Linked DNA regions of Homo sapiens. The protein of the gene in region 1 purifies or fractionates together with the protein of each later gene. This does not show direct contact. Each region holds a gene or a part of one and is shown on either strand. Other genes may lie near its edges. The genes, in order: NARF and LEF1.

Evidence for each region.
Region 2: the proteins of NARF (region 1) and LEF1 purify together in Homo sapiens (affinity purification with western blotting; 2 studies listed by BioGRID). This does not show direct contact.

What each region holds. Positions count from the first base shown.
Region 1 is NC_000017.11:82,461,447-82,465,260, forward strand, and holds part of NARF (nuclear prelamin A recognition factor), read left to right. Parts: intron 1-2,840; coding exon 2,841-2,984; intron 2,985-3,814.
Region 2 is NC_000004.12:108,046,917-108,050,673, forward strand, and holds the end of LEF1 (lymphoid enhancer-binding factor 1), read right to left. Parts: intron 1,836-3,757; coding exon of another isoform or gene 1,756-1,835; 3' UTR 632-1,755; downstream 1-631. UniProt on the Homo sapiens protein: Transcription factor that binds DNA in a sequence-specific manner. Participates in the Wnt signaling pathway. Activates transcription of target genes in the presence of CTNNB1 and EP300.

The DNA.
Region 1 (3,814 bases):
ACTAAAAATACAAAATTAGCTGGGCGTGGTGGTGCATGCCTGTAATCCCAGCTACTCAGGAGCCTGAGGCAGGAGAATTGCTTGAACCCGGGAGGCGGAGGTTGAGGTGAGCCGAGATCACGCCACTGCACTCCAGCTGGGGCGACAGAGTGAGACTCCGTCTCAAAAAAAAGAATGTCATTTTACATGCAGTCTCATTTCACGCCCAGAAGGAACATTACATGTAAGCCTGGCCATTATCCCTGTTTTACTGAGTGAAGGGTGTTGGGAGAGGTTAAGGTCAGTCTACCCTTAGAAAGTACTAGTACCAGTTTATAAATGGAGAGTTGGCAATATGGCAGAAGCATATTTTTTCCTTAAGTTTAGTAGTCCTGACATGTTTAATCTGACAGGTGTTCTCCCGGTTGCCCTGTGTGCCAGTGCTGTGGGGACTGTGGGGCTTAGGGAGCAACAGGGCCTGAGACAAGCAGCCAAAGAGCTGGCCACAGGCAGAAGAGAGGTAGGGTGCATTGGAGCCCTGGAGGCAGCTGGGGCCAGTGCGCCTGAGTGGCCGACCCCAGGGGCCTCCCTCACCTGCCCTCTGGTTGTGTCGTTGTAGACAGATATCTAAGCCCTGTGAGCCTCGTTTCCTTATCAGAGGCCTGGGGAGTAGGGTTACCTCCCTCCCAGGACTGTGGTGAGGATGAGATAACGTGTGTACACAGCCTAAGTGGGCGCCCTGCCAGGTCAGTGATGGACACAGGGTGAGAGGAGTTGGGTTGGGGTTAATGGAGTGGACCCTGAAGAGTGGTCAGAATTCAGGGTGGGAGTGTAGGGAAGGGCACTGGCACACCAGGCAAGAGGAGGGTGTGGACAGACGTGCTCTAGGGAGAGACAGTGGCTCCCCTTGGCCAGGTCAATGACAGTGCAGAGCTGTGGAGACCGTGAGGGGGTGACTCAGGTGTTTGTTTTAGGGCAGGTGATGGAGGTAACCGACTTAAGCTGGCTAGAGTAGGGGAAGAATTGCAGGAAGCCACTTGGGTGGCAGCTTTGAGAGCCTAGGCAGAGGTGGTGGGCCTGGGCAAGTCTACCAGAGTGATAGAGACAGAACAGAGGACGTAGTGCAGGGAAGGGAGTGCAGTTTTAGCTCCACAGACACTGGGCCTTCTACGGTGTGTGAGTCTGGGGTTTGGTGAGAGCACTCCGCTGGAAGTGCAGGTGGCAGGGCTGCCCTGGGCTGAGTGAGGCCAGCAGGCCTGATAAAAGGGAACAGGACTTCTGTAGAATGCATCAGTGTGGAAGGCAGGAGGAATAAGAAGAAAGAATGTGAGGGGTGAGGAGGGAATCAGACCTGGACCATGAAAACTTATGGAAGGACTGGGTTATACACAGCATGTCTGGTGGCAAGGCAGGGAGGAGGCACTGCTGGGTGAGGGGGGCAGTTTGGTCATGGGCATCTCAGTGGGGATGGGCTGTGGAGGCACAATTCATGCAGCTATGGGCACCAGATGTTTGGAGTGGAGCTGTGGCTTTGACCCACTGGGAACTTGTTAGAAGCACAAACTCTTGAGCCCCATGCGGACCTCCTGAGTGCCCATCTGCAGCAGAACAAGATCCCAGGTTGAGTGGGCTGCACAGAGACATGGGGTCATGTGTAGGCAGGAGGCAGAGGTGACACCCGAGCTGCGGTTCGTAGCACGCTGTGGAAGGAGGAGGCACATCCATAGCCGTCTCCTGTCAAATCAAGTTTTAAAGAAAAACGAATGCATGGACTACCTGAGGAGCTTCTGTAATTTATTGACATTACTCCTGTAAGCTTCAGAGTATTCATATGTTCATCCACCAGTTATTTATTGAGCACTGTCTGTGTGCAGTACCTCTTGGAAGTGCTGAGGAACAAGAGAACAAGACAGTGTTCAAGCTCTCATGAGCTTACATTTTAGCGAGGAGGGACAGACTCCTGCTAGCAGTCAGCAACATAAGTACAGATGGGTGGGGAGGGAAGAGACGGGTGAGGGGGTGGTGCTGTTTTAGCAGGTGTTGGACATCGTCTCTGCTGAAGGCCACCCAGGGTGAGCCTGGGGCTCTTAGAGGTTGCTTCATGCAGAAGGATGGCGAGAGCAGCAAGGGCCAGTGGGGCTGGACGTGTGGAGACCAAGGGGGCTGTGATGGGACCCGGGCAGACAGGGGCCACTGGCTTTGCCCAGGCCCTCTGTGTGAGGGGCAGCTGTCTGAGCAGAGCAGAGGTGTGGTTTATGTTTTAGCAGATGTCGGGGAGCACAAGGGCCAGTCAGGAAGGAGAGGGTGGAGGGGATCAAAGAGTGACTCTACATCCAGGTCAGGATAAGCATCTTGTTACATGTCCGAGTGCAAACCCAGAGCCAGCACTGAGTTGTAAAGTTCTGAGCCTCAAGGGAGAGGCCAGGGCTGTGGGTGGCCTCAGGGAGCCGTGGGATGGTAAGAGGGGGCACAGAGCTAGAGGAGCAGTCAGAGGGCTGGATCACAGGCACCAAAGAGGAAGGGGTCTAGGAGGAAGGGGTCTAGCAGTGGGGTGAGCTTCCAGAACACAGGGGTCATTTACTTCCTACCACGTGACAGTGCTAGGGCTGGGTTCCACCCTTGTCATCTGCATGGTTCCCTAGTGTCATTGTGGGCTGGGCCCTGTGTCCTGTGTCCCTTCACCACCTTGAGCTGCTCAGTGGCAGAGACTGTCCTGCTTCCAGCCCCTTGAGCACCAGGCCTGGACCCTGGTATTATCTCCAATGTTTACTGTGAATTCTGTATATGGGTGTTACCCTCTCTAAAGAAGCACATTAAAGAGTATTTGTTGAATAATCATGCTGAAACGTCATCTTTCATAGAAGGGAGAATTCCACAAGTTGGCTGATGCCAAGATATTTTTGAGCGACTGCCTGGCATGTGACAGCTGTATGACTGCAGAGGAAGGAGTCCAACTTTCCCAGCAAAATGCCAAGGACTTCTTCCGCGTTCTGAACCTTAACAAGGTAAGGCATTCGGGGCATTTGCTGATGCTGGGGAGCTGACCTGGAGGAAGTGGAGGTGAGGCCTGGCTTCCTGCACAGAAGCCTCTGCTGGGACATCGGATGCACATCTCAGCCTTTTCCTGGTGTTGCTAACATCCTGCTTTGACCTTCCAAACCTCTCCATCAAGAGCAAAATCCCCGCACAATTTCCTGCTCCCTTAATAATGCTCAGGCAGTGGTGGGGGGCTGGCATCACCCCTCAGGCTCCTGTGGCTTAAGCGGGGCCTCTGCCTGGTGAGGTCAGGTAACACGGGTGTTGGTGATCATGCGGGCAGCACAGAGCCGGAGCTCCTGCTGTTCTGCCTCGGCTGCACGTTTTCGGACACGAGAGTTATGTTCTAATAGACCGATCAGCTTGGGGCAAGGCAGAGACACTCCAAGGAAGTAAAAATTCCCAAAGCTCCTTCCTTCAGCTCATCCCTGCAGACCTCCTATACAGAACGAGAGGTGCCACTTGTCTTTCCGTGAGACAGGTTGTATTAGTCCATTCTCACATTGCTACAAAGAACTACGTGACACTGGCTAATTTATAAAGCAGAGAGGTTTAATTGACTCACAGTTCCACAGGATCTACAGGAGACATGGCTGGGGAGGCCTCAGGGAACAACCATGGCGGAAGGGTGAAGGGGAAGCAAGCATGTCTTCACGTGGCAGCAGGAGAGAGCAAGTAAAGGGGGAGGTGCTGCACCCTTGTAAACAACCAGATCTTGTGAGGACTCACTCACTATCATGAGAAGAGCAAGTGGGAGATCCGCCCCCATGACCCAGTCACCTCCTGCCAGGCCCAGCCT
Region 2 (3,757 bases), on another chromosome or scaffold:
GACCAGTGATAGTGGTTCTCAAAGTAGCTCAAGGGATAGAAAACCATCGTGGAAGACCATGACATATTCTTTTAAATTTAAATATACTTTTTCCTAATCAGATACCAACTTATAACATGTACTAGTAAGGTAAAAATTATGAAATACAGCTCAGGACTTAGAAAATGTTGACTGGGGAGATGGGTGGGGGTGTTAAGACATACCTTCTCCACTGGGACCCCACAATGTGGAAGCCCAGTTTGAATACCAATGAGCTATGAAGAGAGGCGGTACCTGTGGACTTTCAATGAGCACGACAACCAGATGGTGGGAGCCCATGAGGATCTGTGTTCAGGAAAGGACTCACTCCCATCTGAATCCTGGCAACCCTCTTTTTTCCTTTGACCCTGTTTCATACCACCTGGAAAAGGAGGGAGAGGCCCAAGCCATACAAGTACTTTTGAGGACTGCATGTCTAGGAGACAGGGCAAGGTGCCCATTTACAGCCGGTTCTGGCCTGTCCCTGGAGAAGGCTGCACCAGCAGCACCCCTCTCACACAAACTGTTCCTCTCTACAAACCAGCTCTGCCCTGGCCTGTGGATTCAGTTCATTAGCAATTTTAGATTATCAGGAACTTCACTCTTAATAAAATGACAATTTTTAAAAATGTTTTATTACAAAGCTTCTTTTAAAAAAATGCTCAGCACATTAACTCAAACTGGAATGACAAACGTTAGGATGACAGTTTTGGGCAAAGGCTGTGCCTTGCTTTTTTAAAAAATGGGTACATCAATGCTCATTTTAACAACTGGCATAAAATCCCACTAATTGGCTAATAAAAACAGATACAAATACAGAACATTTAAAGTAATAACAATTCAAGTGCTGGGCTTTTTACAACAAGGGGGTGATAAGGAAAGAAATGAAAATTCACTGCAAACCAGTCTGCTGAACGCATCTGTTAAGGTTTACTGTTTAAAAAAAGAAAAGAAGAAAACAGAAGAAAAAATAAACTGAAATAGGGCTGCCAATTGCTACCAACAGAGTGGGTTTGGCTATTACATTTATTTAGCTCTACTGAACACCTTACAAGGGCGGAGAAGCCACTATGTGTTACAGGCAATTCACAGAGAAGCCACTTACCAGACAAGCTGTCTCAGAAAAAGAAGGCTTCTTTTTATGTCATTATTTCAAACTTTTCCAGAACTTTCAATTTTATTTAAAAGCTCATAGCTAGCAAAATATACAAGAAAATTAAAACTAAAAAGTGTAAATTAAAAAAATTCAAGTTTAAAAAAGCAAAAAAAAACGATCCTTTTGCACTGTTAAATAAAAGCTTTAGGAGAAAAGAAAAGAAAGAAAAATGAAGCAGAAACAAAGAGGGAACTCTTCCATGAACTCCTCCACTGGGGTGCTGATGGATGTGCTGGTTGCTGGCTCCAGTTGCGCATGACAGGCAAATGCAGCCAAGTTACCGTCCTTGCCGAAAGGTTACAGGTTTGGATGCAAGATGCTCTGGGAAGTGCACGCAGATATGAGGGGAGAAAAGCTGCTCAGCTGCCCCACAGCCTGCTAGCATTCTCATGTGCTTTTACATTTCCTTTTAAAAAACCTTTTTATGCTTTATTTTGGAACTTGGCTCTTGCAGTAGACGAAAGAGGGGTTGGCAGTGATTGTCTTTATGGATCAGCGTCTCTAGCAGTGACCTCAGGGTAAAATTGATGTCAGTGTTCCTTTGGGGTCGACTGGGCAGGCCGTGGAGACAGTCTGGGTTTTCAACAAGCTTCCATCTCCAGAAGAGGTCCTGGGGTCGCTGCCTTGGCTTTGCACGTTGGGAATGAGCTTCGTTTTCCACCTCAAGAAGGAACAAATGAAATGCTATTAATATGAATTTGCCGTAGGCCTTAAGATTATAACCTCTATTCCATACCATATATGTCTTACAACCTCTGCATTTAATTAATCCATTTTGTTAATTTGGGGATGGCTAAAATGAATTGCCCTATCAGTCAAAAATCCTGAGAGTACACTACAGAGTTAATATAGTGACATTTTTACTTTGGTTCCATGTATACGTATGCCCAGAGTTATGATGTGAAGTGTAGTGAATACTCTGGGTCATGGTAAACAGAACAAAAAAAAAGTTTGAAAAACACCAGTAGGAAACAGGCAAACATGAATAGGGAAGGCGGGCAACAGCCAGATCAGGGAAAGATGTGTCATTCTGCAGTGTTTGGTGTTTTTGGTCCACTGTGGGAAGCCACTGTATGATTCTACATAGGACAGACATAATCACATTACCCAACGCACTGCCAACTCCCGTGACGCTATGTGCTCTGTCCGCTCACACTCACAGCCCAGAGGATACAAACCGCTCCCTTTTTCCTTAAGATCTTACAATTTTCAAGATTTTTTTTTCCTTCCTAACATCAAGGATCTCTAATGATAGCCTCGGAAAGGACACTCAGCAAATATGTTAAAATAATGTTGCCAGATATTGGTGATAATGATTTTCAAATAAGAGAACTCCCACATCCTCAAAGCTTTAATGATCTGAGATTTTTTAAAAAGTGATTAAAAGTAAAATGTAACATTGTAACAAGATGAGACAAAGACAAAAGGAAAGTAAAAGCATGGCAAAGTTCCGTTCCTTCACTCCAGAGAGCACCTGCTTCCGCTGCTTTGAACTTGGGGAGGCTGCTTTCCTTTGGTGGCAGCGATGCTGGAAGCACCTTCTCAACCTGGGTCCCTTGACAGCCTCAGATGAATCCCAACACTTTGTGCTTGTGATTGTGCTATCCGTGTTACAAGCACAAGTTTCCTTTTAGAAACTCATTCTAAATAATGGTGGATTATCGTACACTTTCATTTCAATGGAAAAAGAAAGTAAAAGAGAAATAAAAGGAAACTTTGACATAGTTTAATAATGAATACAAAAGTCTAGATGGCAAGTTACAGTCCACAGAGTACTTTCCATGGAAGGATGGTGATCTATGGAATGGGAACTGCGAGGACACCTGCCCTTCAGGCTTTTGGAAAGAGAGGTTTGGCTCCTATATTTAAAGTGCTCACAAAGTGCACAGCACAGAGCAAGCCCTGCAAGCAGGTTAGCTAGTATTATTATTCCAATTATGCCCAATGCGGCCCCTAAAGATGATCAGAACTGCAAAGAAGCTATTTGTATACCTGGGTAGCTACTGAAAAAGCAAAAACCAACCAACCAACAAAAAACAAAATAGGAGGAAATCAGCCACAGAATGATTTCAACTGAGGAGGTCCTCCAATGACAATTTCATTTTCTATTCTCCTGGAAAATCAACCATTCCCTGTTTAACAGGAAAACACTACAGCATTGTGTTAATCACTATATTATCACTTGTACTCAGCTTAAGAGAGGAGGAGAAGGCACCCTTAGGTAAGGCAGTGAAGGGACAAGAAGACTGGTGGAGCCGGAAGTGCAGGGTGCTCTAGATTGGAGGTGTTAGCCCTGCTTGAGAATGGGGCCACAGCAGGGCCATGGAAGTTGTCTGTACCTCAGTACTTCACAGTTCGCTGTGCCAGGCCCACAGAGGTATGGATCTTGCACGCAGGAGGATCAAAGAGCTACGAAGGACCCTGCCTTTCTACGGAGAAAGAAACAGGGCTCTAGCAGAGCCTGGGGTGGGAGAGAGGGCACCCCACAGATTCCTATTTACATTATAATTTTGCATCACAGATTTTCAAAGGCTTGGTCCAGGTTGCTCTTCCTGGGAAGGTTTTCCTCTCAGTCTGACATGA